Linked DNA regions of Homo sapiens. The protein of the gene in region 4 purifies or fractionates together with the protein of the main gene of each other region. This does not show direct contact. Each region holds a gene or a part of one and is shown on either strand. Other genes may lie near its edges.

Region 1 (4,278 bases), on a different chromosome or scaffold from region 4:
CTGTGGGAGGCCAAGGCAGGCAGATCATTTGAGTCAGGAGTCCAAGACCAGCCTGGCCAACACGGCGAAACCCCGTCTCTACTAAAAATACAAAAATTAGCCGGTGTGGTGGCGGGTGCCTGTAATCCCAGCTACTCAGGAGGCTGAGGCAGGAAAATCACTTGAACCCAGGAGTGTTGAAGTTGCAGTAAGCCAAGATCACGCCACTGCACTCCAGCCTGGGTGGCATAGCAAGACTCCGTCTCAAAAAACAAAAACAAAACAAAACAAAAAAAACAAAGAAAGTTAAGTTAGTTGAACACAGTATACTAAATTTTGAGACATTCTTAAATATGAATTATATTGTTAGTGTACAATCTACACTATAGAAAACCTAATGTCTTCTTAAAAGCGCATGTCAGTACCCAAATCAGTAAAATTCAATAACCTGAAGGTTCTAGTTCACTAAGAATTACTGTGGGCTATATCTGCAAATGCACAGAAATTAAATAGAGCACAAATCACTTGGAAAAAGGCCTCTAAATTCTTTCATATTCAATCTACTTTAATCTGTCTGATTGCTTTGGAGCCCAGCAGTAACACCAATCTCATTGGTAACACTGTGTAGAAATAAGCAGAGAGAGGCCGGGCGCGGTGGCTCATGCCTGTAATCCCAGCACTTTGGGCGGCCGAGGCAGGTAGATCACCTGATGTTGGGAGTTTGACACCAGCCTGACCAACATGGAGAAACCCCATCTCTACTAAAGATACAAAATTAGGCATGGTGGCACATGCCTGTAATCCCAGCTACTTGGGAGGCTGAGGCAGGAGAATTGCTTGAACCCGGGAGTCAGAGGTTGCAATGAGCCAAGATCGCGCCACTGCACTCCAACCTGGGCAACACAAGTGAAACTCCGTCTAAAAAAAAAAAAAAAACAGAAAGAGAGAGAGAGGGAGGGAGCGAGAGCGAGAGAGAGAGAGAAAGAGAAGCAGATATAAGCCCTAATGCAGTGCTGAAAAAAGGCATGAACATCTTGGGCTTACTATGACATGATGAACAATGGGCACTAGAGGATGGCACATACAAGAGGATACTGCCCTACGGCAGTGAAGAGCACTACATCTCAGCCCTCCAAATCTCAGCTCCCCACTAGCAGGTCCACCTATACATCCCCCTACTATCTTCTTACCCAAACCAATAGTCCTTCTGGCCCTTATTTCCAAAAACACCACAAATATTTCCCCAGTCACTCAAGTTCAAAGCTACAGTGTGATTATTAAATCCACTTAAGGAATCTGAATCATCTCCATCCTTACCCTGTAATACCTCTCACATTCATTCTCCCTTCACATCCCCATTCCCACCATCCTAGTTTAAGAAATTGTACCTTAAACCCAAGTTTCCCAACAAGGTCTTGATGTCCCCACAGCCAAATTTGTACTCCAAAACATTGTTTTGAACAAGTCATCCAAGCCTTAAAAAAGCATCTACAGATCTGGCAGTACAGCCAACAGAAACCTATCATGAGCTTGGACAAACACCAAGCACCTTCCAGAAGAAGTTTCTGGACCCAGGGCTCAAGACCAAGTTCTGCAAATTCCCTGTATTTGCTACTTCTTGCCATCCCCTCTTTCTCCATAGTGATAAACAATTAAGTCTTTCAAAAGAAAAGGGTTTATGGCTCGTTTTCATGGACAAGCAGCAGCAGGTGGACAGCATCCTAAACCATGGCCAGTTCTGGAGGGGAGCAAAGCCCAAGAGAATCAGTGGAAGCAACTTAAAACATAAAAGGCCAGGCCAGGCATGGTGGCTCATGCCTGTAATCCTGACACTTTGGGAAGCCAAGGTGGGCAGATCACTTGAGGTCAGAAGTTCGAAACCAGTCTGGCCAACATGGTGAGACCCCATCTCTACTAAAAATACAAAAATTACCTGGGCATGGTGGCGGGCGCCTGTAATCCCAGTTACTCGGGAGGCTGAGGCAGGAGAATTGCTCGAACCTGGGAGACGGAGGTTGCAGTGGGCCAAGATTGTGCCACCACACTCCAGCCTGGGCAAGAGAGCAAGACTCCCTCTCATTAATTCATTCATTCATTCATAATTAAATAAATAAATAAGGCCAGGCATGGTGGCTCACACCTGTAATCCCAACATTTTGCTAGGCGGAGGCGGGAGGATCACTTGGACCAGGAGTTGGAGACCTTCATGGGCAACATGACAAGACCCCATCTTTACAAAAAAAACCAAAATGAGCCAGGCATGGTGGCACTCGCCTGTAGTCCCAACTACTCAGGAGGCTGAGGTGGGAAGTTCACTTCAGCCTGGGAGGCCAAGGCTGCTGTGACCCATGATTATGACACTGCACTCCAGCCTGAGCGACAGAGCAAGACCCTGTCTCAAAAAAAATTAAAAAAATAAATTTAGGCCAGGCACAGTGGCTCACACCTGTAATCCCAGCACACTGGGAGGCCAAGGCATGTGGATGGCTTGAGCCCAGGCAAAGGCTGCAGTGAGCCGAGATCACACCACTGCACTCCAGCCTGGGCAACAGAGCGAGACCCTGTCTCCATAAAATTAAATTAAAATTTAAAAATAATAAAACACAAAATAAAAAAATGTTTTAAAAAGCAAACAAAATCCCTGGTCTGTGGGTACATGAAGAAGTCTGAGATGATGAGCTCAAGAGTTTTATTTTGAAGACTTTAGGATGAAATCCAATATCTTACTCTACATATTAAAGAAATGTCCATGTCATGTGTAAGAGGGAACACATAATAAAAGGAAAGTTAAACATAAGTGGGCTATACCAAGAGCATGAAGTGAGTACCTTTGAGAGTTCAGAGGAGAAACCAAAAACATCAAGGACTTAGGCAATGCAAGAGGTCAGCATTCTAAATAAATCAACCAATTTGGTGGAAGCAGAGAACACAAAAGACAGCTGCGAGAGACTATATAGCTGTCCCATGGTTCTAGTCCATTTTCACATGCTTTCTGGTCTCCTCTCCCCATCTGGACTATCAGTTCAGAGGCCAAGAACCACCACAATGTGTTAACCTATTAGCTAACTATCAGTCACATCTTAAGAATTCAGAAAACAATGGTAACAGTTTTAGTATATTTAATCTCAGAACAGCATAACATCGAGGTGCACTCTGAATTCAGATTTTTTTAAATACCTATATTAAAAATAGAAAAACTTTCTAAAGTTAAGAAATAAGGATACTGGCGAGAATGGTGGCTCATGCCTATAATCCCAGCACTCTGTGAGGCCAAGGTGGGAGGACTGCTTGAGGCCGGTTGAAGACCAGCCTAGGCAACAAATGGAGGCCCCATCTCTACAAAAAGTAAAAATAAAAAAATTAGGCAGGTGTGGTGACATGTGCCTGTAGTCCCAGCTACTCCAGGAAGCTAAGGCAGGAGGATCACTTGAGCCCAAGAGTTAGAGGATACAGTGAGCTATGATCACGTCACTCCACTCCAGCCTAGGCAGCAGAGTGAGACCCAGTCTCAAAAGAAAAAAAAGAAATCAGGATAATGAGGCCGGGCACGGTGGCTCATGCCTGTAATCCCAGTCCTTTGGGAGGCCAAGACGGGCAGATCACCTGAGGTCAGGAGTTCGAGACCAGCCTGACCAACATGAAGAAACCCCGTCTCTACTAAAAATAAAAAATTAGCCAGGCGTGGTGGCAAGCGCCTGTAATCCCAGCTACTCGGGAGGCTGAGGCAGCAGAATCGCTTGAACCTGGGAGGCAGAGGTTGCGGTGAGCTGAGATCGAGCCACTGCACTCCAGCCTGGGCAACAAGAGCGAAACTCCGTCTCAAAAAAAAAAAAAAAATCAGAATACATGAATCAAAGCAAGAATTTCTAAGCACCCAGACACTCTTAACACTCTTGGGAATTGTTTAATGTATTTTTTGAAACTAGGAGGTCTCAGAATTGAACTTTTTTTAATTTAAAAAAAAAATTAACTGCTGACATCCTCTAAGGGAGGAGGCAAAAGAATGGAAAATCTGGTGAAGTGATAAGCAGTTTTTAAAGAGGTTTACAACCAGTTTTTAAACAGTAATCCCTCCGGGAAATGAAAATTCCTCTCCTAATCCCTTTGAGGGCAATATATTTGAATCAGGAACAAGAACATCTTGCTTCTAAGTATAAATATGAACCTTTTAGAGTATCTTCTGCATTAAATAGCAAGTAGAGGAGAGGACAATTTCTAATTTATCAAAAAAAAAATAAGCATCTTGGACTTATATCTTTTGCTAGACACATGCAAAGAGGCTTCAGTAAAATGCAATTA
Region 2 (4,278 bases), about 120 Mb from region 4:
CGTACTAGAGAAATAAACTCATTTAAAGCTACAAAAAGTGTCTTCGTATCTTTTAATATACTCTGAAGACAAATGATCACTGGTTCAGGAATTTTTTTTCCAGTGATATCTGATTAGTTTGTTGCTGACCAACTCCTCTGTTGACAACTAGAAAAGCTGGACAAACAAATATCCTTTAGGCCAAGATAGCTTCACTGATAAATTTTTCTAAACATTTAAATACTATACCAAAAATATTATATATATATAAAAAAAAGCCGATTTCACGACAGATGAAAATTCTTAAGCAAAATACTATACCAATGATATATTAAAGGGTATCATGTCATCGCAGTTTACTGCAAGAATGAGATTACCTTAACAGCTGAAAAATAAATTAATGTAACCCCACTTACAGAACAAAAGGAAAACACCATGATTATTTGAATAGATGCAGAAAAAGCAAATGACAGAATTCTATACGTATTCATGATAATACCTCTCAGAAACTCAGGAATGGATGGGACCCTTTGAATCTCATCAAGAGTACCTGGATAACATCTATAGCAAACACCACACTAAAAGTTAAACTATTGAAAACTTTCCCTTTGTGATTAAGAATATTATTACCATTTTGATTCAACGTTAACTGGATGTCTAGTGCACTGAAATGAAACCAGAAAGGCTTAAGGATTGGAAAGAAGGAAATAATCACTTCCATGTTCACAGACAGCATGACTACACCAAGGCATAGCCAAAATAGTTTATAGATAAACTTATGGAATAAGTAAATTTAGCTGATTATAAGAGAAATATATAACAATCAATTTTATTTTTAAATACTAGCAAGTCAATTAGAATATAGAGTAAAACATACTATCAAAAGACCATCAAATGTCTAGTGAAAAATATATATGAGAACCACAGAAAAAAAATCCTAACTCATGGATATAAAGACCTAAAAAGTGGAAAAGTATTTATTATGATTACAAATTAAAATACTCAATACTATAAAAACATCAATTCTCCTCAAATATAGCAACAGCTGTATTGTCAACACGGTAGCCACCAGTCAAATGTGGCCAATTAAATCTAATGGTTTGAAAACTAACAAAAGCCTGCAAAAGACTACCTTAATGACTAAATGGATAAATAGGACACTGTTTCAGACTGTTTTCTCAAAAGTATTCCATCAAATAACCATTTTTCATTCTTTCATGAATCTAAAACAACTGGTTTTAAAGATCACTGGTTTATAATGGGGTTTTTATCAAATTTTCTAAAGCTGCAAGCTGATAAAATCTAGCTAAACAGAAGACTAAAGGTATGTAGTTGTGATGTACACAAACAAAATTAAGAAGTTTAATCTGATATATACACATATATGATACATTGTGCATATAGTTCATATATGCCTCAAGTTATGAAGTTCTCAAAAACAACTAAAATCTGTATTTCTTTTATATTTACGCAGCTATTTTTTCTTTTTCTAATAACTCATACCCACACAGTCAGTAAGGACATTTCACTGACAACTATGTACTGTAACCATTATTTCTCATTTAAAAATATTCATGCTACTTGAAATATAATATCAAGAATTCAAATAATGGCCGGGCACGGTAGCTCACGCCTGTAATCCCAGCACTTTGGGAGGTGGAGGCTGGGGGGATCGCCTGAGGTCAGGAGTTTGAGACCAGCCTGGCAACACGGTGAAACCCCATCTCTACAAAAAATACAAATAATTAGCTGGGCGTGGTGGTGCGTGCCTGTAGTCCCAGCTACTTAGGGGGCTGAGGTGGGAGGACCATTTGAGCCCAGGAAGTCGAGGTTGCAGTGAGCCAAGATGGTGCCACTGCACTCCAGCTTGGGTAACAAAGTGAGACCTTGTCTAAAAAAAAAAAAACCCCTGCCTGGAACATATACAGACACATACATATGGATACCAAGCACTCACTAGTATTTTGAGGGTGTGGAGTGGGAAGGAGGGTAGAGAATACAAATGAGCAGCCTACATTGTCTCCATACACTAGTCATTACTCCCCAAACCATAATCGGGTTGAAGGTGTCTCCTATTTCCTGGGGCTTCCGGGCATTACACCCAAGTAAGACTCTAAGGATACCACAGCATATGGTACCATCTAAGACTTGTCCTGTCAGTCTCCAGGAAGACCTGCAGAAAGAAAAATCACTTTTCCTGGCTTCTCATTTTTTAGGCACACAATCTTCTCTAGTATGTAGTAACTTTCTTAAAGAACCAGTCAAATAAACTGACATAACTCTCACCACATGGGTGTGAGGATGCTAAAAGTAAACAAAGACAAGATGTACTTCCCTGTATTTCTGTTGAAGACCACTTTACTTTAAAGGTATTTTTACTCGCTATAGCTACACTACACAAAGCTGTGACAGAAGTCATGCAGCTTAAATGAAACAATGATGGAGATTAATTTAAAATAGCTAATGTCAAATAAGGCCATGTAACAGTTAAAAACAAGAGCTCTAAAATCAGAACCAGGTCCAAACCCACCTACCCACCATGTCATGTTAGGCAAGTTAATTATCAACTCCAAATCCTACTTCCTTTATCTGTAAAATGAGTATAATGCCACTCATTTCCTACGGCCAATGATTAAATCAGATAATGGATGTAGTGTTAGAATAGTTACTTGCACCTGATAAGCTACAGTTATGGACCACACACACTTAGTTATGTAGACAGATATACCTTCAAAAAGTCATATAATTTAAATAGGTTATTTATGTAAACAACAGAGATTTTTATCACAAATGTACACTTTAGAACTTTGAAGGGCTTCAAAACCTAAAGCATATTGTGCTGAGCAAAGCCCAAAATACAGGGGTAACACACAAGTGTTTGGAATTCATTTGGCTCATGCAGTTTTAAATCTTCCAAACTAAAAATACAGTGAATTAAAACACTTGAATCATATCTTCAAAAGTTCATTTTAATAATTAAACCCGCACTTACCTGTCACTGAAAAAGCCAAATCCATAACCATATCATGGTGCCAATGTAAACATGTGTACGTATATTTCTTATCATCATAAAAATTCCTCCTATTGGAGAAAGATAAAACTCTTATTTTGACCATAGGTTTAAGTTAGGAAAACAATGGCATGCCAAATACAATAAACATAATATATACCAAACATACTAAATCATAATATAAAGGCTTCTGGTCTTAATGTGCACATTTTCTATTTCTAACCAGAGTGACTGACTTCTATAAATAATATGCCATCTGTGGTACCCTCCTAGATATTCACTATTGTCAGTCTTTCCTTTTTGGAGAAAGGCAAACAAAAAGTTTTCTTCAATAAAATGATTACAGGCAACAAAAAATGTTTCACTCACTTTATAAGTCCAAGGCTAGAAATTCTAAAACAGTAAGTATGAAATGAAAAGCACACAAAAAAGGAAAGGGAGGCTGTTTCTTGGGACCCAGAGATAGCCCTGTTCTACAGGACTAACGTAAAATAGTACATAAATGATCGCCATGCTCTTCATGAGCAAACTGACCAAAGACGAATTTTGCCATCCATGTGACCAGATGCGATGCAGTCTTCCGTTGGGTGACATGCTACACATGTAAAATTGTTTTTAGCATGCTTCTTATTTCTTGATGATGATAAAGTAAACCTAGGAGAAAAAAAAAACAAATTCCCTTAATTATTAAAGTCTCTTGATAAGTGGTGATGTAGTTAAGTAAAAGAGAGTTCCCAGCAATAGCAACCAAAATTGTAGAGCTCAGAATTCAATAAATATAACTGCAGGATTTTTTTTAAAAAGAAAATTTTGATCAAGAATCAAGCATTCTATTTTGTAAACATATATCAATATACAACATGAACTTCATGTAACTAATATTCTACCATAATAATTTATCTATGGAAGCCACTGACATTTAAGTAAAGATTTTAGTGATTTTTTTTTGGCCTGGTCAAAGCTTGTTCAAATTTCTCATTGAACCTACATCTTAGCATGAGGCATAATCAAACCTGAGACATTAGATCTGAGACAAATGGCTAATGCATCTGAAAGGACAAATCCAAAGGGATCAATCTACTTGTTATAATATCTAGCCTATTTCCTATTCTTTGGCTGAATACTTGTCAATCTTCAGGCTCTGAAGAAGTCAGGATCAATATTATACTAAAAAGAAAGCAATTGGCCGGGCACAGTGGCTCACGCCTGTAATCCCAGCACTTTCGGAGGCTGAGGCGGGTGGATCACCTGAGGTCAGGAATTCAAGACCAGCCTGACCAATATGGTGA
Region 3 (4,278 bases), on a different chromosome or scaffold from region 4:
AACAGGTTTTTTTCTCCTGGAAATCATTATCTGTATACTTATCACAAATATTGCTGAAATAACTCATTTCCTCAAGCAGTAAACAGGTGTACACTAATAATAATATACAAAAAAATTAAAATGCCAACCTATCCAGTGAGCCAGAGAGTAACCTCTGTCCAGAGCTGCTTAGACATAAACATGTCACGGTTTTGTGATGATTTTTCAAAGATACTAGCAATTGTCCTCCTTTTAACATGTCCCAGACTTTAACATAACGACCTCCTATAAAAAGAAATCATCGTTAGTTGGATATTCTGCCCACAGATTCAACATATTAAAGATCTGAAAAGCATTCTTCTCTGGACACTCCACAAAGCATGGAGGCTGAGTGAGGGAGTCCAGGCCAGGCTGCCTGGTAAAATCCTGGATGCACCACTTCCTGGGTCATTGGTAATAACAGTTCCTACCTCACAGAACTGTTATGACCATTAAATAATATTTGTGAAGTGTACATAAATTCCAGCAAAATAAATGTATAACTGAAAGAGTCCATTTTAAGAAAATTATAATAAAATCATTTTTTAAAAGAAATTCTATATAGCAGTGGAAGTGAATAATGTAGATCTGCAGCAAAATATCAAGCAAAAAAGTCTAATATGGAAAGACAGAAAAAGGGATGGAAGGGGAGACTGAAATCTTGACTGGGGAACAGGAGTTGGAACCCAACTCACAGTTCCCACCTCTCCACTCCTATGTGGCACCTCACAAGAGGGATCACAGTTGAAATCACTGATCTAGTCCAACCCTCTCATTTTCAAGGTCTAGAGACCTTAAGGGATTGCCCGAGGTCACAATTAGCTAGTGACACACAGTGGAGATCAGCACACAGCTTTCTATTCTCCCTGTTCAACATGATATTTTTTCCATTTGTCAGAATAACAGCAAGAAAAGTAGACACATCTGACATTATCAACTTTTTTCTTTTTTTAATTAAAGATGGAGTCTTAGAGTCTTGCTATGTTGCCCAGGCTGGTCTCAAACTCCTGGACTCAAGCTATCCGCCTGCCTCAGCCTCCCAAAGTGCTAGGATTACAGGCGTGAGCAACCACATCCCGCCTCAACTTATTTTTAAATCAAATAGGTACTGGGGAAAAGAATATAAAACAGAGTAATTTCTAGCCAGATTTTAGAATTAAGAAAAAAAAAAAAAGGAGGTACACACAGCAATATATATGTTGTCAAGTATACATACTACCTATACATTCTTCTAATATGAACACATTTTTACTTTATTTACAAATGAAAAAAGCCAATTTACTTCTTCCACTGTAATTATGAAAATGCAATATGTGCAAAATGAGAAAAACATCTCAGTCCCAACTTGTTGAAAAATGTACCAAGGCCCCTTTTGAGGCCACATTATCTCCTTTCTCTAGTACTAGCAGCTATTTGCTGGGTAGTGGCATTTCAATCAAGAGAGTCACAGAAAAAGAGACAAGCCTACTAGATCTCAAATAACTGATTTTCAAAAGCTGCTGCAGATCTCTTAGGTAGGAGTAAAAGGAGTATGAGCTAAATTTCTGGGGTTAAATAAGATGGCACAGGGCTAAATACATAAGAGCTAAATTTCTGGGGTTAAATAAGATGGCACAGGGCTAAATTTCTGGGGTTAAATAAGATGGCACAGGGCTAAATAAATAAGATGGCACAGGGCTAAATACACAGAGCTCTCGAGTTCTGTGATTTCAGATCTGCCACTTACCACTTTGCCTTGAAAAATAAGTTAAAACTTTTATTTCATTGCTGTAAAGTAGGGAAAAAGCTAACTACCTTGTAGCATCATCTAGGGCATTAGAGTTCATATGTAACAGCACAGTGCCTGGCTCACATTAGGTACACAATAAATGATAACTGCTTGCCAGTCCTACCTATCAACTGTTTGAACAAAGACTTAGATATGCAATTCAAATGCACACTGATAAATTACAAAGAGCAACTGATTTTAAACAAACGTGATTCAAAACCAACAATATTGGTGAAAGCTATTTTTAAGAAGTACCTGCTGACACCAGAAGACCTCCAGAGGGGAAAAGTAGGACACTCTCCACTGGCTGCCCATGCTCAACGGAGAGAACACTCTCACTCGTTCGTGCATCAAACATCTTCACAGTATGATCATATGATCCTAAAATGTCAATTTTTGAATTTTTAGTTTGACTGTTTAAAACAACAAAAACTGTGTGTATCCAGATATAAATTTTAAAAGGAAAAAAAGCTTAGATGGAGTTTTAAAAAGACATATATGTATATTCATGAAGACACAGGACCTCCAAACCATCTACTACTGATCGTGTCTGAAGAAGCACTACATAATACTATACAGAATCTAACTTGCTCTGATCTTAAAATATTTCTTTCTTTGGACTACTGTCACTACTGAATCATCTGGAAATCTTTGTAAAGGCACCCACAAAGGCTAAACTGCACTCTTTGTTTCTTGGCTGCTTGAGGCAGGGTACTATACATTACAGTTCTGAGAGTCTATTATGTTTTCAAGACAGCCTGATTTTTCCAAACACATTTGGAAGACATGAACAATCAACAAAAGAAGAATAAGAAAATAAAAAACAATTGGAAGCCAGGCATGGTGGCTCACACTTGTAATCCCAGTCCTCCGGGAGGAAATTGAGGTAGGTGGATCACTTGAGCCCAGGAGTTCGAGACCAGCCTGGGCAACATGGCAAAACCGTCTCTACAAAAAAATACACAAAGTAGCTGGACGTGGTGGTGGGCACCTGTAGTCCCAGCTACTTGGGAGGCTTATGTGGGAGGATCACTTGAGCCCAGGAGGTAGCAGATGCAGTGAGCTATGGTCACATCACTGCACTCCAGCCTGGGCAACAGAGTGAGACCCTGTCTGAAAATAAATGCAAACATACATACATAAAAATTAATTTAAAAACTGAAGAATTAATCAGAAACATATTCCTTTATAAAAAAAATTTAAACCCCTCCATCCCAAAAGAGTCCCATAGCAACATTAAAGTACATCCCCGTGAGATTATTTGCTTCAGGAGGGAATAGAGTTCACCAACCTGTTATAAAGAGATCCGGATTAAGTTTGCTAGCACATCCACACCTCACATAATCAGAGTGTTCTTTAAATGTCAAAATTTCTTTGGAGTTTGGAATATCCCATAATTTAACTGTATAATCATCAGCCCCAGAGACCACGTGATATTTGTCAGCTGTAAAATCTACTGTATGAACTGCTCTGAAAGATTGAAGGTCAGTATATTAAAAAGCAAGAAAATTATTTTTCTGATACCTTCTAACATAAAATGCTCCTTTTTCTCAGATTAAAAAAAAAGCAGCTGAGTTTCAGGGAGTCTTCATAGGGGGAAATCATGAAAGAAAGAGAAAACTTACAAGTGTTTGCCCCCAAACCAATTAAGAAGTGTAAATACTCCTATATTGTAAAGTTAAAAAAAATTAAAGGATAGCCTTAAAATTATATTTTCTAGTATATAAACAATTCCACTTAGCTGCTGAATATGGAAGCAAAGGCACTTTAATTTTTAAAATTTCAAAAAGTTCTTTAAAAAACTCTAAAGAGATTTACCACTAAATAGAATCATGTTACATAAATTTCTGTTAAATTTTAACAAATTTCAGCACGGACATTGGCAATCCTGAAAACAAAGTTATAATATAAAATTGTGATGGCCACTTAATTTATTAAGGGGCAAAACACTATAAATTCAAGAAGAAAATCCACCTTCCTACTTGACTTCAACATAAGAGCCTCTAAGACAGTACAGGCCTATAGAGCTGTCATTACCAGCTGTAAGGTTGTCTTCAGGTCAGTAATTCATAATCTCAGCTGGGCCACAGACCCCACTAAAGTTAACCAAAAGCTACAGAGTAGCTCCCTAGATAAACGTGTATTTCCTAAAATATCACATACAATTCTAGGGAATTCATAAGCCCCATGAAACTGGACCACGGAACCCAAGTTAAGCACTCTTAGAACAATCAGGAAATATAGTACCTATAGGCAAATAATCTCCATAAAACTGATCTCTATCTTTTTAACCAAAGTCCAGAGAAAAAAAGAGCTTACAACAAAATAAAACCAGAACACACAGAAACCAACTGTCTCTTACTTTGTATGGCCTTCAAACTGCCTGAGGGGAGCCCTCCCACTTATATCAAAAAGTTGAACTCCACCATCTTCACTGCCAGCCACAAGCAATCTACCATCTTGTCGAAAAGTAGCACAGTATGCTGTGTCTT
Region 4 (4,278 bases):
ATTCAATTGATTTCTACTAACACTTTATTATAGGCAGCTGCTGAGTATTTATTCCTTCCACAGAAAAAGCGCAGAAATTTCCCTCTGTCCCCTTAGCTACTCTGACCCCAGGATCAAGCAGTGACTCTACGATATCAGCAGCAAACTCTTGAATAGCACTGATTATGTGCCAGGCACTACTCTAAGCATTCCACATGCACTTGTTCATCTAAACCTCACAGATGAATAAACTGAGCCAAAAGAAGTTAAAGAACATGCCTAAAGTTGTACATGTTAAAATTTCCAAAGAAGAAAAGAACTCACCCAGCTCTGCTCCTCACCCTCCTCCGGGGTTCTATAGGTACTCCTTGCCCTTCCACATACTCCTTCTAAAACACTGGCTGCAGAGGTAGAGACAGACGGAGAGGGCATGAGAAAACTTGCTTCTCTTCACCACTCAGTAAGGTGTGGCTGAGACTGAGTACCTGGGTTGCGGGGATGCTGCCCAGTAACCCTAACAGATGTTACTGCCACTCAGTCCTTCCTCTCACTGGTTATACAGAAGCCAAAGTACCGATAGGAGAAAACAAGAGTGCATAGCATCACATACAGAACTGAAGTCATCAGCTACCTCTTTCCTTTAATTCTCCACTTCAGGGTGGCCAATCCAGGCAGAAACCTGGGAGGCACCCCAAATCCAATCAGTCCTGTCAATATGGCTCCCTTAATCTCCTTACACCACAAGCTTTCCTCTATTCTCACTGACTAGATTATTTCAACAGCCTTTGAGTAGTGTCCCTATTATCAATTTTTCTCCACTCCCAGTTTTAGAATATTACAAAATATGCTTTAAACAGTCTGGTCATGGTACTCCTCTGTTTAAAATTCTGCAACAGTTCCCTCCCACATGGAAGACAGTTCCAAACCCCTCAGCGTAGATGCAAGGCCCATTATGATGTGGCCCTTGCTTGTCTGCCTAACCTCATCTTTCATGGCTCCCCTCTTCCAATCCTAGAGCTGTGGCCATGATGGCAGTTTTCCAAATGTGCCGTGCTCTCTCACTCTCAACTTTCACCTGTGTGATTCTCTAAGCCTGAAATGCCCTTCCAACTCCACTTTTTTCAAACGCTGCTTATCTTTGGAGGTAAAAAATAGGTTCCAGTTCGGCCAGTGAAGACTTCTCTGCATGCTCTCCTTCTATGCTCTCTGTCTGGACAAATACAACAACTATAAGCTGTCATGTCACTTAAAACACTATCTCTTAATGTATTTTTATTTACTTGACTTCTCCTTTGACTACATGCTCCTTGAGGGGCTGTGTCATATTCATGTTGTATCCCCAGTGGCTGACACACAAGGTGACTATAACTCTCAATTTGCCCAAGACAGTTCCACCTTACGCCTGTTGTTTCAGCTTGCCATCAACTCAGCTCCTTTCTTTCTCAGAAGTCCCAGTTTGAACAAAAAATTATATGGCTACCCTAAACAATGCAAGTTCTCTGACCCTTACTACCGCTTCCCATCCCATTTAGCTGGAGAACAGAAGCATCAGAGGAGTTACCCTTTGCACCAGTCAGGTTTCAACTAGAGAAGCAGAACCAGTAGGAGATATATATTAAGAGAGTTATGGCAAGAAACTGGTTTACATAGGGCAGGCTATGAAGGGAGGAACTCATGCTGGAACTCTTGGCTACTAGCTGAAACTGCTGTCTACAAGTGGAATTTCTTCTTTTTTGGAAGGAAAACCTCAGCTCTGCTTCTAAAGCCTTTCAACTGATTGAATCAGGCCCACCCAGATGATCTAGAATAATCTCCCTTACTTAATTGATTATGGATTTTAATCATAGCTTCAAAATACTTTCACAGCAACACCTACATTCATGTTTGACTAAATATCTGGGGGCTACAGCCAAACCAAGTTGAAACATTAAAAAGACAATCACAGCCAGGCACCATGGCTCACATCTGTAATTCCAACACTTTGGGAGACTGACAGGAGGATCACTTGAGCCCAGGAGTTCAAGATCAACCTGGGAAACACAGACAGACCCATCTCTAAAAAAAAAAAAAATATTTTTAATTAGCTGGGCGTGATGGCATACACCAGTAGTCCTAGCTACTCAGGAGGCTGAGGTGAGAGAATCACTTGAGTCTAGGAGTTCGAGGCTGCAGTAAGTTATGATTACACTACTGCACTCCAGCCTGGGCAACAGAGCAAGGCCCACATCCTTTCTTTTTTTTTTAAAAAAAAAAAAAAGACTATTGCACTAAGATGCATTCCTAGCATCAAAAATATTGTTGCTCTGACAATACTTTCCCACAACAAGCTTATTTTGATTATCAGGTTCCCAAGTAACAGAACTAGACTTCAAATTCTAGCTAACAAATGTAGAAGAAATGACAACTTAAAAAAGAATCACGACTTTGCAACGCCTAATGAAATTGTAGGTTTAGTCAATGACCACCAACAGATCACTAAAAGTAGGTGAAATGCACATATTATGAACCTCCTGATGTGAGGCAATATAACATACACAGCACCATCTGCAAAGCATTCCCAACTCCCAAAAAAGCTGAATCTGAACAATTAAGCCTACAGAGCTAACTTCCATTTTATAGGAAATCCAAAGGATAGAGGAACAAATTAACACCACAAGAAAGCAAACAAATATGGAGTGAGAAATACAGTACTCTACAGGATAACTGACCAGGTTTCCATAACAAGTCAACAGCATGAAGCAAAAAAAAAAAAGTGGGGGAAGAAAGACAGAGGAAGAAGAGATTTAAGAGATGTAACAACCAAATGAAATACACAGACCTTGTTTGGATCTTGATTCAAATAAACCAAGTGGAAAAAGATAGTTCTGTGAGAAAGAAATCTGAACATGGACAAAGTACTAGATGACACCAACAAATTATTGATAATTCTGTCATCTATGATAATAGCAATACAGTTATATAAGAAAATTTCCCTGTCTTTTGAGGATGCACACTGAAGTATAGAGGGGTAAAATTATGTAACATTTTGAATTTGCTTAAAAAAAAAGTAGCCTCCACAAATTATTACAACTTTGAGAGCAAAGATAAGAACCTATGTACATTATTTCTATAGTGAAATTAGATGGCTAACTCACAAACTAGCTTTTAGAATACAACTCCGTTCATATATAGGAGAATAACTAAAGAGAAGGTGTCGTCTAGAATATTTAAGCAGCTCCATTACATCTCATTTCAATTCCAAATATAACTGGAGTGAGGGAGAGGAAGGTTACTGGGTGCTCACTACATCTGTGATAGTTGCTGAACATATAGTCTCAAATGAAGTTTGTATTACTAACATTTCCAACAAAAGGCTCACATTCTAGAGTGTCTATTTATTTCAAGAGTATCACAAAAATCCTTTTGAGACAGAGTCTTGCTGTCTCGCCCAAGCTGGAGTGCAGTGGCTCAATCTCAGCTCAACGCAACCTCTGCCTCCCAAGTTCAAGCAATTCTCCTGCCTTTTACAGGTGCGTGCCACCATGCCCAGCTAATTTTTGTATTTTTTTAGGAGAGACGGGGTTTCACCATGTTGGCCAGGCTGTCTCGAAATCCTGACCTTGTGATCTGCCCACCTCAGCCTCCCAAAGTGCTGAGATTACAGGTGTGAGCCATCGAGCCCAGCAAATTCCCTTCTTTAAAAAAAAAATCCTAATTTCTTGTATTTTTACCTGGCCCTTAAAAATGCAGGCAAAATAAACAAATAAACAAACACCCAAGACTAATGTCAAATAAAAAACTAAAAAAAGACATATGCAACACAAAGATTTTTTTAAAGCCTCTATGAATCAATTTAACAATAACAAAAAAAGTACACACAACCCAAAAGAAAAATAAACAAGAAAATCAACAGTTCACAAATAATCCAGATGACCAATAAGCATAAAGAAAGCTACTCAGCCTTACTGATAATTAAGGAAACATAAATCGCTAAAATATGATGCCATTTTCATCTGTCAAATAGGGAAAAATTAAAAAGATTAATAGTACTAAAATGGACAAAGGTGAGCTGAGAACAGCCTCCCATTCACTATTAGTCAGGGTATAAATTAGTTTAGCATTTTTGTGAGGTAATCTGCACTATGCTTCAAAATCACATATGTACACATGCTTTGACCTAGCAATTTTACTTCTCAAAGTATATTTTAGCGCAAGATAATGTTTAAGGACTTCCACTGCAATGATCTTTAAAACAGTAAACTTTAAAACAGAACAACCCACACATCCATTATTAGAACCTGGTTAAATAAATTATGATAT
Region 5 (4,278 bases), on a different chromosome or scaffold from region 4:
GTGGAGGGAGAGGCGTGGGTGGGAACCAGGGCTGCGGGCAGTGCTTGCGGGCCAGCGCGAGTTCTGGGTGGGCATGGGCTCAGCGGGTGGGTGTGGGCTAGGCGGGCCCCATACTCTGGAGCAGCCAGCTGGCCCCAGGCAGTGAGGGGCTTAGCACCTGGGCCAGCAGCTGCTGTGCTCAATTTCTTGCTGGGCCTTAGCTGCCTTCCCACGGGGCAGGGCTCCGGATCTGCAGCCTGCCATGCGGGAGCCTCCCCGCCCTCCCACCCCCACCCATGGGTGCTCCTGTGTGGCCCCAACCTCCCCAAGGAGCGCTGCCCCCTGCTCCACGGCGCCCAGTCCCATCGACCACCCAAGGGCTGAGGAATGCGGGTGCATGGCAGGGGACTGGCAGGCAGCTCCACCTGCGGCCCCAGTGCAGGATCCACTGGTTGAAGCCAGCCGGGCTCCTGAGTCTGATGGGGACTTGGAGAACCTCTATGTCTAGCTAAGAGATTGTAAATACACCAATCAGCACTCTGTATCTAGCTACTCTGGTGGGGACTTGGAGAACCTTTGTGTCTACACTCTGTATCTAGCTAATCTACTGGGGAGGTGGAGAACCTTTGTGTCTAGCTCAGGGATTGTAAACGCACCAATCAGCACCCTGTCTAACAGACCACTCGGCTCTCTGTAAAATGGACCAATCAGCAGAATGTGGGTGGGGCCAGATAAGAGAATAAAAGCAAGCTGCCAGAGCCAGCAGTGGCAACCCGCTTGGGTCCCCTTCCACACTGTGGAAGCTTTGTTCTTTCGCTCTTTGCAATAAATCTTGCTACTGCTCACTCTTTGGGTCCACACTGCCTTTATGAGCTGTAACACTCACCGCGAAGGTCTGCAGCTTCACTCCTGAAGCCAGCGAGACCACGAACCCACCTCGGGAGGAATGAACAACTCCAGGTGTGCCGCCTTAAGAGCTGTAACACTCACCATGAAGGTCTGCAGCTTCACTCCTGAGCCAGCGAGACCACGAACCCACCAGAAGGAAGAAACTCCGAGCACATCTGAACATCAGAAGGAACAACTCCGGACACGCCGCCTTTAAGAACTGTAACACTCACCGCGAGGGTCTGCAGCTTCATTCTTGAAATCAGTGAGACCAAGAACCCACCAATTCCAGACACAATATCCCTATCTTGAGTCTGGAGATGGATTCAAAAAGCAACAGAATTTCAAGTCTAAGAGAGTAAGCCTTTAGGATAGAACTCCAGAAGGTGATCCCTCTTCACTGGAAGACCCATAACTATGTAACTGTGTCTCTTCCCAACCTCACCCATAGAACCTGAAGGCTTTCTAGCTCAATCTCTAACACTCCAGCCCTCTCCACCTCCATGTGCCCCACTCCCCAGCTAGGAAAGTGAATACCCAGCCCAGAAAGGTTATTGACAAGAAGTTCTTTGTGGGGTGTAAATATGGTGTAAGTATGAACAATCATTAGGAACATGACTCATGGTTCCAGGCCAGCTCCTGGCACTAACTAGCCACTTGACTTAGGACAAGCCCCTTCCCTCTCTGGATTAGTTTCCTCATTTGTAAAAGATGGAGATTAAATTAGTCTCAAAGTGATTCTCTAATTCTACAGATCTATAAATTAAAATGGCTGTAATTATTTGCAATAAATAATAGCAGCTGCTATTTACTGTGCATTTACTATATACCAGATAATGTGCAAGGAATACTGCAGTTAATGCATTTAATCTTTTCAATAATCCTATACGATAGTGTTATTCATTCCATTTTACAAATGAGAAAACTGAGGTTAAAAGATGTCAAATGAATGGCCCAAGTTCAGACAGCCAGTAAGTAGCACTTAAGCCTCAAGTCAGAGCTCTTAACCGCTATGCTACACAGTCCACTGCATTCTAAAGGATGTCTTCACTTTACAAAAGGACTCAGCAGAGACCTCCTTCACAGGATGAACTGGCTGGCCACAAGGTCACAGGGTTTACTACTGCTGCTTCTTCCTTTTTTTTTTTTTTTGAGACAGGATCTCACTCTGTCACCCAGGCTGTAGTGCAGTGGTGATCACTGCAGCCTCAAACTCCTAGGCTCAAGCAATCCTTCTACCTCAGCCTCCTGAGTAGCTAGGACTACAGGCACATGTCAACATGCCCAGCTAATTTTTATTTTTTACTTTTTGTAGAGATGGGGTCTTGCTATGTTGCCCAAGTTGGTCTCAAACTCCTGGCCTCAAGTGACCCTCCTGCCTTAGCCTCCCAAAGTGCTGGGATTACAGGCATGCGCCACCACATCTGGTCCAACTACTGCTTCTAAAATATCACTTGCTCTGAAAGATTAGTCACACCTCTTTGTAGTGAAAATGTACTTGGTCCAGGAAGGGGCTGGTGGGCTGTCAGAAAACTGAGCCTCATCAGATACTGCTTTTCCAGCCTTTAATTCACTCTCTGCCTCCTGGAGAAAGGCTCAGGTGATAAGTAAAAGATAAATGAAAAGCTACAAATTTTCCTTTCCAAGCATGCATAATTTTTTTCCATATAAAAAAAGGATAGGAGGAAAACAAACCAAAAAAACCAACCTAACCAGTCCATGAATCACTGTACCCAGGGCAACTTTTTTTTTTAAACCCAGTTTTCCTTATAAAAGGCTTAGGAAATTGTCCAAACCTGCCTGGCCTAGCTCAGGGCCTGGTGCCCTACCACAGTTTTTATTTATCTGCAGCAGTCACGAGCAAAGGAATTAATCCATGTGTGAACACTTAAATAGGAGTTACCCTGAAGTAAAAGCTCCATTTTAAAACTCAAGAGATGTCAACAGCATGGAGTGGTGTCCCCTCCTTCTCAGCAGAGGAGACTGATGTGCCTCTAGATCAAGGGCTTCTGGATGCCAGGAAAGCTCTTGGTGACTTTCACAGCTGTTACCCATGTGATCACAACAACCCTACCAGTAGGGTGTGGTGTGGTGGAAACAGCCACCTTCCAAATTATACTTAAATCTCTGTTGTCACATGCCAGTTTTGTGACCTTGACCTAAATAGCTCTAAGCCTGTTTCTTCATCTAGAAAGCAGGGATAACCCCGACCTTACAGAGTTACAAGAGAACAGAAACGTCATAAAGCATTTAAAGGAGTCCTTCAGTGTAACACATAGGAGTCCCCCCAAAGCAGTTCCCTTCCCCTGCTTCTGGGGGCATGCATTAACTCACTGCATCCTCAAAAACAACCCTGAGAGAGGTTACAGATAAGAATGGAGGCACCTAAGTTTCAATCTCCTGTTTGTGACAGAGTGGAAGGACATTTAAGCACAGACCTACTTTCCCTCACACCCAGGAAGCCCAGTCCTATTACTTCTTAATAGAAACTGACAAGTTGGCGCTACCAATCTGACACATCTGGAAGGACTTTAGACTCAAAGTGGTCCTCTGAGGTTATGTTAACCCCTCATTAACTTGCTTTGACTTGTCTAATACTCCAGATTCCTAAAGGAGAAGTGAGACTAAATTCCTTCCCCTACTAGAAGGTGACTGCCCCCCGCCCTTAGGAAAGGGGCCACATTTGGTCCAGCTTTGCAGGCTCGGGCCCATCACACAGCAGGCAAAAGTAGGTGTTGATCCTTGTTTGACTTTCCAACCCTGTTGAGTAGCCAGGCATTCCTCTGAAAGGATATGGCTCCATAACTCTGCATCCTGCAGTGTCTGGGCATAAGGCTTTCTGTGCCATGGGTCTGTAAACAGAAAGGGCAGAGAGCTAAAAATCAAGAGTCCTGAGGGCTGGCTCCAATTCTGTCATGGCCAGACTGAGCAACCGAATACTGACTGCTCAATCTCATAGTTGAAAACCAGGCTGAGGCCCTGATCTCCCTCTTCCATGCTATACCCCTAAACAATGCTTATGATGAAAGCAAGATCCACAGAAAAGAAATGGAAGCCATCAGCTGGGCTACAACTCCCTTCAACAGCCAAGAACATACAATAAAATGGCTTTCACAGGGTTCCAAGAGCCCTGTGGTAGGGTTCGTCAATTGCCATGGCCAGGTCTGAACCTATGAGGGCCAGTTTAATGTCCAGGTCATAGCCATAGCACTCAGTAGGCTGAACCTGGGAAAGCTTTATTGTGCCTAAAGCCCTGTAAAGGCCACATAACAGTCACCATCCATCCCCAACAGCCAGGACCAGGGGTAGGTGCCTGAACCAAAGGCATATAATCCAAAGGGTGACCAACTCTTTTTGGCGTGAAATACTACCAGACCAAACTGATTCTCTCATTGCAATCTGGTCTCTGAT
Region 6 (3,500 bases), on a different chromosome or scaffold from region 4:
TCCCAATATACCAAAATGAGATTGATAAGATAATGGCAAAAGAGAGAAAATGGGACAAGTGGATTCTAAATGTTATCTCAGGAAGAGAGAGCATACTGACAATGTTATTTTAAAAGTTACCCATCTTTGCTGGGTATGATGGCACGTGCCTATAGACCCAGCTACCCAGGAGGATGGATTGAGCCCAGGAGTTTGAGACTGTAACATATTATGATAGTATCTGTGAATAGCCAGTGCACTCTAGCCTGGGCAGCATAGTGAGATCCTGTTTCTTAAAAAAAAAAAAAAAAGAAACGAACAAAAACAAAAAGTGTTTTTAAATTATCCATCTTTAAAATAAAATACCAAGAAGGCAAATCTTCAAACATACCTTTTCTTGTTGTTGTTATGTGTGTGTTTTGGTTTTTGTTTATGTGTTTGTTATTGAGACGGCATCTCACTCTGTTGCCCAGGCTGGAGTGTAGTGGTGCATCTCGGCTCACTGCAAGTTCCGCCTCCCAGGTTCAGGCGATTCTCCTGCCTTAGCCTCCTAAACAGCTGTGATCACAGGCGCACGCCACCATGCCCAGCTAATTTTTGTATTTTTAGTAGAGGTGGGGTTTCACCATGTTAGCCAGGCTGGTCTTGAACTCCTGGCCTCAAGTGATCCTCCTGCCCCAGCCTCCCAAAGTGCTGGGATTACAGGCATGAGCCACCATGCCTGGCCGTTATTGTTGTTAATAAAAGCTTCCTTTCAAAAACATTCTTGAGTTGGGTGGATGTGCTTGAAAAAAAATAGGACACTGTATTTCTTGTTCTTTTCCTTACTGCTTGAGGTGGTCAGAGTCCAGATAGATGGCACCTAACCAGTTAATGCCTTGTTTTGTTTTGTTTTGCCAAAGGTCGAGTGGTGGGCATACTTCAGAAGAACTGGCGGGATTATGTGGTGACATTTCCGTCCAAAGAAGAGGTCCAATCTCAGGGCAAAAATGCTCAGAAAATCCTGGTTACACCTTGGGATTACAGAATTCCCAAAATTCGAATTAGCACTCAGCAAGCAGAAACCCTCCAGGTAGTTGGCATTCTACCTCTACTATGGGATCTCTACGCTTTCTCCTTCTGTCTTTACCAGCTTTTTAGCAGTACCAGAAAGCATTGTTAATTCCTTTGCATATAAAGAAATAAATTATTGATGGCATCTGGCATTCCAAGATACTGGGATGTGTTTTTTGGGGTTTTTTTGTTGTTGTTCTTTTGTTTTTCCAAGACAGAGTCTCACTCTGTCACCCAGGCTGGAGTGTAGTGGCGTGATCTCAGCTCATTGCAACCTCCACCTCCCGGGTTCAAGCAGTTCCCCTGCCTCAGCCTCCCGAGTAGCTGGGATTACAGGCTCCCGCCACCACGCCCGGCTAATTTTTGTATTTTTAGTAGAGATGGGGTTTCACTGTGTTGGCCAGGCTGGTCTCAAACTCCTGACCTCATGATCCACCACCTCCACCTCCCAAAGTGTTGGAATTACAGGTGTGAGCTACCATGCCCAGCCGTGTTTTTATGTTTTTTAATTCTTTTTTTGTAGAGATGGGGTCTCACTTTGTTGCACACGCTGGTCTTGAACTCCTGACCTCAAGCAGTCCTCCTGCCTTGGCTCCCCAAAGTGCTGGAATCACAGGCATGAGCCACTGTGCCCAGCCCCAAGATTCTGTTTTTTAAAAATTCTAAATATATGAAAACCATCCATTAAGTAGTCTGTGGTTAATAAATTCAGGCCAGAGAGAAATTGTCCTAGAAAGAGCTGTGTAGGACAACCAGAGAGAACATACATTATCCAGCTGTCCAACATAGAAACTTTCTATAGATACACTTTGCCAACACTAACAAGCTTTCCTCCAGCAAGCAATATAGAAATACGATCACTCTGCCCTGTAGGGATGATGTAGTGGTACTTCACAGAATTGATTATCCATAAAGGAATATAGCACTGGAGAGAAGACATAAACAAGAAGGTTAGAAATTAACCTTTACTTGTGTCAAAAAGTATGGGCATTGCCCAATTTAATTCCCCCTGATATTTTACAGTTTGTAAATGAGACACTAAAGCAGGATGTCCCCAGCCAGTAACCTAGCCATTGTGCTTTTACATCTTGAAGCCTTATGCAGGCTCTCCAGGCCAGTTGCACCTAATACATTTTCCATTCCCATGGTTTGCTGGAATTTTGGGGTAGTGGGGATTCAGTTTACACGACACCTTCTTCTCCACCAAAGACCATCTTAAGAGGTCTTCAAAGAGACCAGGCGCAGTGGCTCATGCCTGTAATCCCAACACTTTGGGAGGCCGAGGCAGGTGGATCACTTGAGGCTAGGAGTTCAAGACCAGCCTGGCCAACATGGTGAAACCCCATTTCTACTAAAAAAAAAAAAAAAAAAAAAATTAGGTGGGCATGGTGGTACACGCTTGTAATCCTAGCTATGTGAGAGGCTGAGGCAGGAGGATCACTTGAACCCGGGAGGCATAGGCTGCAGTGAGCCAAGATAGCACCACTGCATTCCAGCCTGGTTGATAGAGCAAGACTCCATCTCGAAAAAAATAAAATAAAATAAAATAGACTTCAAAGAAATTAGGAACTACCTCCCACACACAAAACATTAAGATTGTTGTTTTAAAACTTAATTTGGAGCATGCATAATTGAGTTTTCCCCTAGTGTTGCAAGCGTTAACTAGAATATATTACAGTTAACTAGAATATATTACGGCTCTCTTCAGCAGACTAAAATTTCCAGCCCTCTTCATTGATGTAGAGAGGTAATGCCTCCCTTCAAAGCATTGGGTCAAGCATTTCATACCATCTGGCAATTTAGTAATAGGAAGAATGAAAAACAAAAAAAAAACCCTACCATACACCACTATTTGCACCTGGCCACTCTCCTTGGAACCCAGTATTGTTTGCCTCTTGTTTGTTTGATGCCTCTAATTGACCCACTTAACTCCTGGTGCTCAGCTGTGTTTTATTTTTTCCTTTTGTGCAGGACTTCAGGGTGGTCGTGCGCATCGATTCCTGGGAGTCAACATCTGTGTATCCAAATGGACATTTTGTGCGTGTTTTAGGAAGAATCGGAGATCTGGAAGGGGAAATTGCAACCATCCTGGTGGAAAACAGTATTTCAGTTATTCCTTTCTCAGAAGCTCAGGTCAGATTTTCCAGAAGGCTTTGATCTAGTGACATTTTCTTTTTGCTTTTGTTGTTGTTTCATCATTAAGAAAGAAAAGTCTTTGTGCTGTGGAACAACCCACTGTGTGAAGGCACAGATAATGGAAAAATCTCAATCCTCTTTATTCTATATTTGGACCAAACTGAAGTCAGCTTCAAGTGTAGAATTAGTTTTCTATAGCCTCATAGCTCTCAAATTTTTATATTTTCCAACTGGGCTTAAAAATGATATGTCAGTGTCTCATAGTCAGTATACATCCATCCCCAGCAACTACAAGGACACCTAGTTACAGACCCAACTGAGCTCCACACTCT
Region 7 (4,278 bases), on a different chromosome or scaffold from region 4:
GGTAGTTCTGGTGAACCTGATCTCGGAACTCCAAAATGGTTACCTGAAGAGAAGGGGTGTTGGGAGAGCCTAACAGGAAAGGGATAGAAGGTGCAAGGGAGGGAGGAAGGGAGGGAAGAGAATGAGAACAGAAACCCCTTTGGTGGGGTGAAATGGAAAGAGACATTTGGGACATTCACTTAAAGCTGGTCAACTGCACACACACATTACACTCTGCTCTTTTCCAAAATCCCACAGGAAAGGGAGAGATCAGTGACAAAATTTGGGGAACTGGAAAGCAGACAAGTAGTGGCACTGACTTAGCAGAGCCCTGAAACTAAGTCCCAGGTCGGCAGAGAGGAAAGCCAAGAAGCCACCTGATTTATACTATGGAATCCTTGGACTCAGGAATTGGGGACCCCAGATATTCTAGAAAAGGAGTAAGTGGGGCTTCAAAGAGGGATCCGTTAACAGCTGGTAGACCCCTCAGATAGCCATGCCCTGACTAAGAAGGTGGGAAGCTCCCAAAATGCACGTCAGCAGAATACTGGAGACGTTGTCTGAGGAGGGCTATCAGGCAGAAGCAGTATATGAAAACCAGGATTAAGTGAACATTTCTCACTGAATGTTGAGAACACCATTCTTTTTTTTCCCCTTAGAATGCTGATAGCCAGGCCAATACTCACCAGGCAGGAGAATGAAAAACCATTTCTGAGGAACATAACTGACACAAAAGAAAAGATCTGAAGATTCTGGCTTCAGGGCTACCCCAAATAAGCAGTCCAGCCAGATCATTCTTCAGTGAAACCCAAGCTCAGTAAGCCACATGATGCAGTGATGAGATGATCACCAGACATGAGGAAAGCCTTTAACATGAAAGGCAGAGGCCAAACGGACTAACAGAAACAAATAAATGAATAACAGGGAAGAAACAGGCAGAGTGAAAAACACTTGACAATTATTAATAGCCTTAGAGAAGAGTTTCGGGGTGAGGGGAGGGGGGAGGGATAGCATTAGGAGATATACCTAACGCTAAATGACGAGTTAATGGGTGCAGCACACCAGCATGGCACATGTATACATATGTAACTAACCTGCACATTGTGCACATGTACCCTAAAACTTAAAGTATAATAATAATAAAATAAAATAAAATAAAAAAAGAAAGAGAAGAGTTTCTGTATAATGAAACATAAAGAGAATGCTGTAAAAAAGAAGATTCACGAAAAAAAAGAACTCTGGAAATGTCAAAAATGAAAAACTCAATAGAGGATTCAAAGATAAAAAAGACAAACTCTCCCAGAAAGCATAGTAAAAAGACAAAGAAATGAAAAATAAGAGTAAAAGAATTTCCCCCCAGAACTGAAGGACGTGGGTATTGGATTAGAAGAACCTACCAGGTGTCCAGAACAATTAATTGATCCACATACCAAGAAACCTAATTATTACATTTCATAACAGTAAGGATAAAACATCCTAAAAGCTCCTGGGGGAAAAAAAAATAAAACAGGTCCTACACAAAGGGATAACTCTCAGAATGGCAGCTTACTTGCTAATAATACGAGGAGCTGGAAGACAGCGGAGCCAGGGCTTCAGAATTCTAAGGGAAAAGAATTTCCAACCTAGAATTCTTTCTCATGCACTCTTACTCAGGATCCACCAAAGGGTAAACCAAGAAAGTGAATAACACAGAAATGGGAGATCCTATCCGATAGAGAAGCAAAGGAGATCCCGAGAACAATGGAAAAATCAATCAGAGTTTCAGATCTCACAGCTGTGCAGCAGGCCCAGAGTGGCTAAGCCAGATGGGAGTGGGTCAGAAGGCACCGGGAGGGACTTATTCACAAAGATAAAAGTGGAGAAAGAAAATCAGATGGACTTGAACCTAATTTATGCAACTGGAAAAATGTGGGAATGTATCAGTAAGACAGAGAGACAGAGACACTATTAAACAATAAGTATACCGGAAAAGAAAGAAAATTTACTATGTGAGTAGTATATACATAGTCATAATAATGAAAACATCAATTACTAATTTGAACAAAGTTATAATATAACCATACTGGGAGGATCGGGAGGAAGTGTGGATGCCTGTGGCAGACGGTAGAAAAAGAGGGGCAAGTTGCAGAAGTCAGTAAAAAATGGTCTAAAGCTGAAAAATCAAAATGTAGCATAAAAAGCATGCTAGGATCTGCAGTGATAGATACCAAAAGAATCAGCTAAGGGTCACAAGTGGTTGCCTCGAGGAGAGTGAGAGAGATATAGAAGGACTCCCTCTTTTTTGTAATAAGCTTAAGGGATTTTTTTTTTTTGAGACGCAGTTTCACTCTTGTTGTCAGGCTGGAGTGCAATGGGGCGATTCTCCTGCCTCAGCTTCCTGAGTTGATGGGAATACAGGCATGCACCACCACCCCGGCTAATTTTGTATTTTTAGTAGAGACAGGGTTTCTCCATGTTGGTCAGGCTGGTCTTGAACTCCCGACCTCAGGTGATCCACCCACCTCGGCCTCCCAAAGTGCTGGGATTACAGGCATGAGCCACCGCGCCCAGCCAACCTGTTTTATCTCTGCATCTCAGACGGAAATACAGACATGTCCACCTAACAAGTTGAGATCAACCCTATCAATGAAGGATTCTATGAAGCCAATTTTCCAGGCCAAGAACAGAAAATATCATGGTTCTCTGCTTTTCTGATCTCATGTTTCACCAATTATGCTACAAAAATCTTATGTTCCTCAATGACAGAAGCCCATTTTTACCAAGGACTGGGATCTATAAATAGGTAATTCTACTGTTTATAGTACACGAATGTACTAGTTCAGAGTATTTTATTGTGAATTCTTATTACGATGAATGAAAAATACTATATCTTACTGAAGATCCAAGATTCCCCTAAAAGCAGTGGTAGTAATCCAAGAAAGGAGTAAAATTAATTGTGGACATCTCAGAAGATTAATGACATGTTAGGCCATAAAGGTCATGAAACCATGACAAAGGCTCAAGCTTTTGAAAACTCAGAAATGTGAATCTGACAAAACCCACACCCCAAATGAACTGAAAAAAACAATCACCTGATTTGACATCAAACACACTAATGTAGTCTATGGAACCAGCTGCAATGTGGGTACCAGAGGGATGCCAGCTGAGACTCAGGATGCGACCTTGGGAGTTGGACAACAAAAAAAGAAAGTGACATACACATAAATATACGAAGAGTAACTGAGCTCTCTTCCCACAACTATCTCTAGAGTGTTCTACAATCTTAGCTCTCTCATCTATAGTACTCCTTGAAGCACCATTTTATTTATTTATTTATTTATTTATTTATTTATTTATTTATTTATTTTTGAGACGGAGTCTCCTCTGTCGCCCAGGCTGGAGTGCCGCAGTGGGATCTCGGCTCACTGCAACCTCCGCCTCCCAGGTTCAAGTGATTCTCCTGCCTCAGCCTCCCTAGTAGCTGAGATTACAGGCACCTGCCACCATGTCTGGCTAATTTTTGTATTTTTAGTGGAGATGGGGTTTCACCATGTTGGCCACGCTGGTTTCGAACTCCTGACCTCAAGTGATCCACCCGCCTCAGCCTCCCAAAGTACTGGGATTACAGGTGTAAGCCATCGTGCCCAGCTGAGACACCTATTTTCTATTTCATACTTGACAAAATGTATGAGATTTTTAAAAAGCATTGTATTACCTTTGTAATTGAGAAAGAACACCCAGGCCGGGTGCAGTTGCTCATGTCTGTAATCCCACCACTTCAGGAGGCCGAGGTGGGTGGATCACGAGGTCAGGAGGTCAAGACCAGCCTGGCCAACATGGTGAAACCCCGTCTCTACTAAAAACACAAAAACTAGCCGGGCATGGTGGCACGCACCTGTAGTCCCAGCTACTAGGGAGGCTGAGGCAGGAGAATTGCTTGAACCCAGGAGGCAGAGGTTACATTGAGCCAAAATCACGCCACAGCACTTCAGCCTGGGCGACAAAGCAAGACTCCATCTCAGGAAAAAAAAAAAAAAAAAAAAAAAAAGAGCACCCAAGATATATTAAAAACGAAGCAAGAATCTGATTAGCAGAGGATAAGTATTACTAATGGACACAGAGGACATTTGCTATTCTAGAAGATGGGTCACCAAACTGTGGCCCACAGGCCAAATCAGGCCCACTGCTTGTTTTTGTAAATAAAGTTTTTACTGGAGCACAGCCTGCCCATTAGTTTCAGTATCGTCTATGGCTGCTTTTGCACTACACTGACAGAGTTGGCAGACAATGTAGGTTTGGCAAAGCCTAAAATGTTTACTA

What was found.
Region 1: the proteins of C1D (region 4) and TENT4B purify together in Homo sapiens (co-immunoprecipitation; one large-scale study listed by IntAct). This does not show direct contact.
Region 2: the proteins of C1D (region 4) and WDR75 purify together in Homo sapiens (affinity purification with mass spectrometry; 2 studies listed by BioGRID and IntAct, with this or other methods). This does not show direct contact.
Region 3: the proteins of C1D (region 4) and UTP15 purify together in Homo sapiens (affinity purification with mass spectrometry; 2 studies listed by BioGRID and IntAct, with this or other methods). This does not show direct contact.
Region 5: the proteins of C1D (region 4) and EXOSC7 purify together in Homo sapiens (affinity purification with mass spectrometry; 3 studies listed by BioGRID and IntAct, with this or other methods). This does not show direct contact.
Region 6: the proteins of C1D (region 4) and DIS3L purify together in Homo sapiens (affinity purification with mass spectrometry; one large-scale study listed by BioGRID and IntAct). This does not show direct contact.
Region 7: the proteins of C1D (region 4) and UTP4 purify together in Homo sapiens (affinity purification with mass spectrometry; one large-scale study listed by BioGRID and IntAct). This does not show direct contact.

The regions. Positions count from the first base shown.
Region 1 is NC_000016.10:50,155,884-50,160,161, reverse strand, and holds part of TENT4B (terminal nucleotidyltransferase 4B), read right to left. Parts: intron 1-4,278. UniProt on the Homo sapiens protein: Terminal nucleotidyltransferase that catalyzes preferentially the transfer of ATP and GTP on RNA 3' poly(A) tail creating a heterogeneous 3' poly(A) tail leading to mRNAs stabilization by protecting mRNAs from active deadenylation.
Region 2 is NC_000002.12:189,458,118-189,462,395, reverse strand, and holds part of WDR75 (WD repeat-containing protein 75), read right to left. Parts: intron 3,644-4,278; coding exon 3,524-3,643; intron 3,061-3,523; coding exon 2,972-3,060; intron 1-2,971. UniProt on the Homo sapiens protein: Ribosome biogenesis factor. Part of the small subunit (SSU) processome, first precursor of the small eukaryotic ribosomal subunit.
Region 3 is NC_000005.10:73,568,475-73,572,752, reverse strand, and holds part of UTP15 (U3 small nucleolar RNA-associated protein 15 homolog), read right to left. Parts: coding exon 4,149-4,278; intron 3,257-4,148; coding exon 3,078-3,256; intron 2,168-3,077; coding exon 2,042-2,167; intron 265-2,041; coding exon 129-264; intron 1-128. UniProt on the Homo sapiens protein: Ribosome biogenesis factor. Involved in nucleolar processing of pre-18S ribosomal RNA. Required for optimal pre-ribosomal RNA transcription by RNA polymerase I.
Region 4 is NC_000002.12:68,052,758-68,057,035, forward strand, and holds part of C1D (nuclear nucleic acid-binding protein C1D), read right to left. Parts: intron 381-4,278; exon of another isoform or gene 304-380; intron 1-303. UniProt on the Homo sapiens protein: Plays a role in the recruitment of the RNA exosome complex to pre-rRNA to mediate the 3'-5' end processing of the 5.8S rRNA; this function may include MPHOSPH6.
Region 5 is NC_000003.12:44,982,208-44,986,485, reverse strand, and holds part of EXOSC7 (exosome complex component RRP42), read right to left. Parts: intron 1-4,278. UniProt on the Homo sapiens protein: Non-catalytic component of the RNA exosome complex which has 3'->5' exoribonuclease activity and participates in a multitude of cellular RNA processing and degradation events.
Region 6 is NC_000015.10:66,317,568-66,321,067, forward strand, and holds part of DIS3L (DIS3-like exonuclease 1), read left to right. Parts: intron 1-881; coding exon 882-1,051; intron 1,052-3,003; coding exon 3,004-3,165; intron 3,166-3,500. UniProt on the Homo sapiens protein: Catalytic component of the RNA exosome complex which has 3'->5' exoribonuclease activity and participates in a multitude of cellular RNA processing and degradation events.
Region 7 is NC_000016.10:69,138,687-69,142,964, reverse strand, and holds part of UTP4 (U3 small nucleolar RNA-associated protein 4 homolog), read right to left. Parts: intron 3,141-4,278; coding exon 3,051-3,140; intron 823-3,050; exon of another isoform or gene 775-822; coding exon of another isoform or gene 666-774; intron 1-665. UniProt on the Homo sapiens protein: Ribosome biogenesis factor. Involved in nucleolar processing of pre-18S ribosomal RNA. Part of the small subunit (SSU) processome, first precursor of the small eukaryotic ribosomal subunit.